Homo sapiens: one gene and its partner. The protein of the gene in region 1 interacts with the protein of each later gene in a pairwise test. Each region holds a gene or a part of one and is shown in the gene's direction. Other genes may lie near its edges.

Region 1 (3,657 bases):
AAAGGAACACAGATTGCCGGGTGCAGTGGCTCATGCCTGTGATCCTAGCACTTTGGGAGGCCGAGATGAGCGGATTGCCTGAGCTCAGGAGGTCGAGACCAGCCGGGCAACATGGCAAACCCCCACTTCTACTAAAAATACAAAAAATTAGCTGGGCCTGGTGGCGGGCACCTGTAGTCCCAGCTGCTCAGGAGGCTGAGGCATGAGAATTGCTTGAAACGGGGAGGCGGAGGTTGCAGTGAGCCACTGCACTCCAGCCTGGGCAATAGAGCAAGACTGTCTCCAAAAAAAAAAAAAAAGAAGAAAAAGAAAGGAACCTAGAAGTTACTGGGTTTGAGAGCCACCATGTTTTAATCGTGTGGACTTAGACAAGATCTGTGACCTCCCTGAGCCCCATTTCCTCATCTGTAAAATCTAGGTTAATCATAATATCTGTACCATAGGGTCGTTGGGAAGATGAAGTCATATATAGGAAGTGCCTAGCATAGTGCCTGGCCCGCAGTAGGCCTCGTTTGTGTAGCTGGAACTATGATTTGATATCAGTACTGTCTCTGTAAGGAAATAAGGTCCCAGCAGAGTACATTCTTTGGGGGTCCTCCAGGACAAATGAAAACCACAGAAACCCTAGGGTATAACTCTGGGCTTTAGGTCTGTAATGCCATTAGCTGGGTGCTACCAACATAAAAAGGTAATGTTGACCTTTATAGAACTGGCCTCCTGGGTCTTTTTAGTTTGACTAAAATCTGGAGTTTGTGAGGCTAAACCCCTCTCCAGCCCCATAGGCCTCTGGCTAGTAAATTTGGTTATAAACACCATTCAACCATTAAAGCCCAAATGAAGTCAAGTGACTATTTGATTACAGGTTTGATTAATGGAACCCAGACCTAAGACTAACTGTAACCATTCCGGATTCTTTAAATCTTGAAAGCATTTGAGAACTAAAACACTGTGGGTGTAAGTCATTTAAGTAATTGATACCCCCAATAGAGGGACCTTATATCCACTCATTTTAAAGTGTGCAGACTTTTTCTTAGTTATTTGTTTTCTTTTCTTCCCCATCAACAGAGAGAACTTTTCTGAACCTAGGCGCTCTGGGCTATCTTTATTTATTCTATAAACAGGCTACCACCTAAGGTATGAAGGCAAAATCGGGCTTATCAGGCAGGCAAAAATGCTTTCTATTCTGTTGCATCAACATTGTTAGGCAAACAGCAAGAACAGGATCAGGAAGATAAAGCCCTGAGGAGGTCTCACGGTTCCCAGGAATTTGTGTGAATTAAATGATCTGATCTTATGAAAATGTAGAATTGCAATTCGTAGGAAAAACTAGAAAACTGGTGATAGCAGATGGCAAACAGACACATTACAGGTTCATTTGAGGAAGACTAAGTGATGATCATCTGGGAGATGGCAGGAAAATTGGGGCCTTGAAGGGCTGTCATTCATAGTTGTACATACCGTTTAGTTCAGCATATTTAAAGTGTTTCTTTTTTCAACTGTTGCATTATTTCTCCATGAGGTTTTGGGTTTTTTTTTTTTTTGTAAGTATTTTATTTTCAACGAAACTAAATTTCCCTAATTTTAAATTGATATTGCTGTTTGGCAGAGGTGAAAGTATTGGTATCAAAATGACAATAGGATGGCTGTTGCAAAAAGAGTCTTACCTGAGTGCTTAATTTTGAACCCGGTAAGATTTGGATCCTTGAAGTTACAGTACGCAAATTCTTTAAATGATCATTTGCCGTGACTATAGCACACATTATATTGTCCTATAACAGGAAGCTGTTCTAAATATTGGATATTAAAGAGGGCTTCAATTTCCATTCTGTGCAAGGACTCTAAAATTTTAGACAGGCTGTCCAAGATTATGATTCATCGGAGATAACTAAAACTAATTTTTTAAATTTGAGTTTTGATTTCAAATACAAGACACTGTTTATTTTGCCAAAAACTCTACTTGGTTCTTTGTTGCTGTTTTGCTGTTTCTATTTCTATGAAAGGAGACATCACAAACTTTTCTTTTCTTTCTTTCTTTTTTTTTTTTTTTTTTTTGAGATGGAGTCTGGCTCTTTTGCCCAGGCTGGAGTGCAGTGGCACAATCTCAGCTCACTACAACCTTCACCTCCCAGGTTCAAGCGATTCTTCCTGCCACAGCCTCCCGAGTAGCTGGCATTACAGGCACCCACGACCATGCCCAGCTAATTTTTGCATTTTTAGTAGAGTTGGGGTTTCGCCATGTTGGACAGGCTGGTCTCAAACTCCTGACTTCAGGTGATCTGCCTGCCTCGGCCTCCCAAAGTGCTGGGATTACAGGCATGAGCCACCGTGCCGAGTCACAAACTTTTCTTTCTTGGCTCCATGTGCGGCAGTCCATAATGGCTCAACCTAAGAGTTATTGGAAGAATGATTTTTCTTAGTAAGAACAACTCATTGAGAGTTGAAGAATCAGAGAGACTTGACAGTATCATAGCTGTGTGCCATTTCACACTAAAATATAAAAATTAAAGTGAAAAACTTACAAAACATAAAGGTATTTATTTATTTATTTATTTATTTATTTATTTATTTATTTATTTATTTTGAGAAGGAGTCTCACTCTGTCGCCCAGGCTGGAGTGCAGTGGCGCTATCTTGGCTCACTGCAATCTCCGCCTCCCGGGTTCACGCCATTCTCCTGCCTCAGCCTCCTGAGTAGCTGGGACTACAGGCGCCCACCACCAGGCCCGGCTTGTTTTTTTGTATTTTTAGTAGAGACGGGGTTTCACCGTGTTAGCCAGGATGGTCTCGCTCTCCTGACCTCGTGATCCACCCGCCTAGGCCTCCCAAAGTGCTGGGATTACAGGCGTGAGCCACCACGCCCGGCCAAGGTATTTTTAAATGACTCACTTTTTAAATAAGTTTCTAATACTCCTCTAGGTATTAGGTATTACTGAGTTTCAAGAAACTCCTTAAATATATGAATTGTTTAAAAACAGGTGTTTATCCACTCATTAGAGAGTGGTTGCCTATCTTTGCTAACGTTATTTCTTTGCTCTATAGGCGTCTAAATACTTTAAACAAATGTGCGGTGATGAAGCTAGAAATTAGTCCTCATCGGAAACGAGTGAGTATACAAATTGCATAATAGAATGAGGGGGAAAAGGGGCAAACAAAAAAGTGAATGATGTGTTTTGTAATAGGTTTTGTTTCTCCAACTCTTAGTTTGTTGTTCCGTAAGCATCTACATCTTGAATGATATCGCCTAGACTTGATAGCCTTATGTAGTTGAAGCCAATAGTTGCAACTAGTCCATTACATTATTTTATCTATTGTTTTTGACCTGATCACATCAGCTATTATTTTGCCTAATTACTAACTCAATGCCTATTACATAATAAAGGGATCATGCTTAAGGAATCCCAGTGGATTTTTGCATTGCTCATAGAGGAAATAAACTGAGGTTTATTTCCAACTCTTCTGTCTTCCCAAATATAACAATAACTGTGCTTCAAAGCTGTAGAGATGAAAGCGAAGGCCGATTTGTGCAATATTGAAGAATAATAAGAGATTTGGAGGGAGGAAAGGAATTGGAAGAGGAAGAGGAGAAGGCAGGAGATCCCACACAGTTTAGTCAAATGGTGGTACACAACCGAGCTGGATGGTATTTTCTTCTGCGTGT
Region 2 (3,657 bases), on another chromosome or scaffold:
AGGTAGGGAGTCTCTGGACTTTAGAGATAGGCTACGGAATTCCGACTTCCATAGATAAATGTACTCTGCTGACACTAGATCAGAAGGGTTACAGGAAAAGTTCTGAGAAAGGTTTGTGATTCTGCCTAAGGCATTTGATATTTTTATTAGCCATTAAATAAGCCTCATTCAGAAAAGCTTTTAATCAGCTTTTTTTCCCCTCAAATAAATAGAATTGACTAAGCACTGTTTGCTTTTCAGTTGGCTAATTGGGAATAAATGGTAACAGACCTACCAGGAGGAGTTCCATAGAGAAAACTACTTAAAAACTCCCATTATACAAAGAAAAAAGATCAATACACACAGAGATACCGAAAAATAGACAACCTCGAAAACTATAACTACTTGTTTTCCTCTATTCATTTGCATTTGTCATTGCCAACATGCATTTATATTGATTTATTCCTTCTTTTAGTTAAGTCCATCAAAGTTAGAAAAAAATGAAGATGTGAACACTAATTTAACACACCTATTGAACATACTTTCAGAGCTTGTGGAGAAAATATTCATGGCTTCAGAAATACTTCCACCGTAAGTGGTGAAATTTTCATTTGACAAGAAATTGTGTATCTATGTCTTCAGAAATTTCTATTTCTAAAACGTGAAAGCTTTTCTGTTGTCCTAATATTATTATACTCTGAAAAAGTCATGGTTAATCTTTATGAGATGAATTGTATTTAAAGAAAATAGCTGTCTTAATAAAACCACCCATTATTTTCGTACAAGCCAATATGTCTGGTTTGTACTGTAGTAGCTTGGGGAGTGAATAGAGGTTTATAGTTTCAGATTTGAGATTGTAAAAGATATCTTGTCTATCCATTTAGTCTATACTTGATAGACTAATCACTCTGTTAATATGCTTGTCGGCCTCCAGTATTAGTGAACTCACTTGTTCAGGTAGAAGTTAACTTAAGTCTAAATCTTGCTCCCCAGAATTTGCAGCTGGTTGGTTCTCTATATCTGAAAGTAAATGTCAGGAAGTTGACTGAATAAATTGATGATAAACTTAGTGGATAAAGTTTTCCTTACCCCTTGCTAAATGCCTCATTACCTGTGGCAAAATACTTTTTTGGGTAAAAGGCCAGTTTTATTGAACTGTGGTATATTTGGGTAAATTAAGCTTTTGGCTGCTAGGAGATCAGTGTTTTCACTTGCTTTCTGTGTTGAGATGATTGTGTTATTTTGGCAGGACATTGAGATATATTTATGGGTGTTTACAGAAATCTGTTCAGCATAAGTGGCCTACAAATACCACCATGAGAACAAGAGTTGTTAGGTAAGGCTCATCAATTGATTTGTTAAATCACATACTAATAGGTGGATAATTGTGAAAAATTGAGGAATAACAATATACAATTCAATGCTTTTTTCTTTGGCTTTTATGTCAAAGCCCTGTTGCATATTTTCTAAGTCCAGATGGCTCCTAAACTGAAAGTTACTGTGAGATTTAGCTGCCGTTTGCATTTTCTAAAAACATGAACATTCATTTATAGTCAAGTATTGGGGATTTTTAAACCCTTACAAGATGAGGCTAAAAGTTATATAACAAAATCTGTAGCTAACTTCATATAGTATTCTTCATACATACACACACATTGATTGGCAGTGAGAGAGAAGGGCAGTAATTGACCGATTTAGATATTAATTGGTTTGTTACAATCTGTGACTCTGAGCTAATCAGAACCAGAACATGTAGTTCTGAAGCTGTGTTTCAGTCTGCTCATTGTACCATAATTAGGAAGAACTGCTTTGGCAAATCATGGAATTTGGGAGCTTATATAAAGGGACTTCATTATCATTATTCTATAGGAAGAACTGCTTTGGCAAATCATGGAATTTGGGAGCTTACGTAAGGTTACTTCATTATCATTATTCTAACTTATTTTTCCAATGAAGAAGCAGATCTGTCTGGAGAGGTTAAGTTGAACTAAGGTTTTATAGAAAGCTGGTGGCTAAGGCAGAACTAAAGGTAACTTTCTAAGACCCAATCTGATATCCTTGAGTCTTATTGTAGGCTTTTGCTTTTGTTAAGCATACTCCAACTAATACCCCAACTAATTCCAGGCAAATGGAAGTTTAATGCGAAAGCGTCATGGAATACAGCAGTTTTCTAATAATATAATTTGTTATTTAGAATATACACTGTCATGTCATGCTATATGTAAAATAATTAGGCAACCATTAACACCATTATTACACAGTTTGTTTTGAAAATGTGTTAATCCTGCCTCCAACCTAAATTTTGTCAAGGGGCTTCTATTTCTTTTTTTGGGGGGCAGGTAATATTTCTCTTGGTTATGATATGACATAATATTTAAGAACTACAGATTCTGTTTTTCTTGGCATTAGTGGTGATTGGGAGGAATAGAAAAGAATTACAAGCATAATATTCCAGCACAGTTACGTGTGAGATGTAAATTAAAACTGTTCTATAAATTTGTAAGTTTCAAACAAGTATAACTGTTAAGCAAACACAGCAGGAAATTGTAAACTGTTTCGTGCAAGAGGGTGTTTTAGGGCATTTTTGCCAAGGTTAGGTTTCAGGCTCATAGACCTACTATGTATAATTATCACAATATTTTCAAGTAAAGTTTACAAGATTCTTTAAATTTGGGAAGTCCAAAATTAAAGACTTAATTGTTATTTTTTTGAGACAGGGTCTTGCTCTGTTGCCCATGCTGGAGTGCAGTGGTGTGATTTCGGCTTACTGCAACCCCCGCCTCCCAGGTTCAAGTGAGATTCTTGTGCTTCATCCACCCAAGTAGCTGGATTACAGGCATGCACCACCATACCTGGCTATTTTTGTATTTTTAGTAGAGATGGGGTTAGACCATGTTGGCCAGGCTGGTCTTGAACTCCTGGCCTCAGGTGGTACACCCACCTCGGCCTCCCAAAGTGTTGGATTACAGGCATGAGCCACCATGCCCAGCCAATATATTAGAATTTCTATAAATGCTGTTTGAGAAGTAACATCTTTACTTTCTAAGAGTCCAAAAATTAGCAAACAGGTACATGTTCAAAGGTAAATGCTAAGAAATTGGGTAATCCACTCTAACAGAGAACAGAGATTGTATCTATTAATCTATAGAAGGAATTGCGTAACTCATTATTTTGGGAATAATGCTTGTCTTTACATGGATTATGTCTATCAATCTGTAGAAGGAATTGCATAATTCATTATTTTAGGAATAATGCTTGTCTTTACATGGGGCAAGTAAGAGGTTAATTATTAGTGTGGATTCTTCTTAAAAGGAAATTAGAAATTATCTACATGACAACATATCCTCCCTACCAGTGACTAAAGGAGGCAGAATAGGAGTATCTATGCAAGCTTTTAACACTGACATTGTCCCAAAGTAAAATTAGCAGATAAAATCATATATGACAGCTGTTAGTATAATTTTTGCTTTTGCTATTGTTTTATAATTTGACAACTTTTTAAAACTTTAGAATTCCTAATGTCTTGTCTTAAAAGTTTTTCAGGCTGGGCATGGTGGCTCAAGCCTGTAATCTCAACATGTTTAGACCAAGACAGGAGGATTGCTTGAGGCCAGGAATTTGAAATTGTCCTGGGCACCGTAGCGAGACTCTGCTTTCTACAAAAATAATTAAAAAAAA

What was found. Proteins that work in one complex are often made in the same cells at the same time.
Region 2: the proteins of DLC1 (region 1) and RASA1 interact in binary tests that used the Homo sapiens proteins (3 or more experiments, as listed by UniProt).

What each region holds. Positions count from the first base shown.
Region 1 is NC_000008.11:13,102,235-13,105,891, reverse strand, and holds part of DLC1 (rho GTPase-activating protein 7), read left to right. Parts: intron 1-3,038; coding exon 3,039-3,102; intron 3,103-3,657. UniProt on the Homo sapiens protein: Functions as a GTPase-activating protein for the small GTPases RHOA, RHOB, RHOC and CDC42, terminating their downstream signaling.
Region 2 is NC_000005.10:87,379,281-87,382,937, forward strand, and holds part of RASA1 (ras GTPase-activating protein 1), read left to right. Parts: intron 1-454; coding exon 455-570; intron 571-1,228; coding exon 1,229-1,315; intron 1,316-3,657. UniProt on the Homo sapiens protein: Inhibitory regulator of the Ras-cyclic AMP pathway. Stimulates the GTPase of normal but not oncogenic Ras p21; this stimulation may be further increased in the presence of NCK1.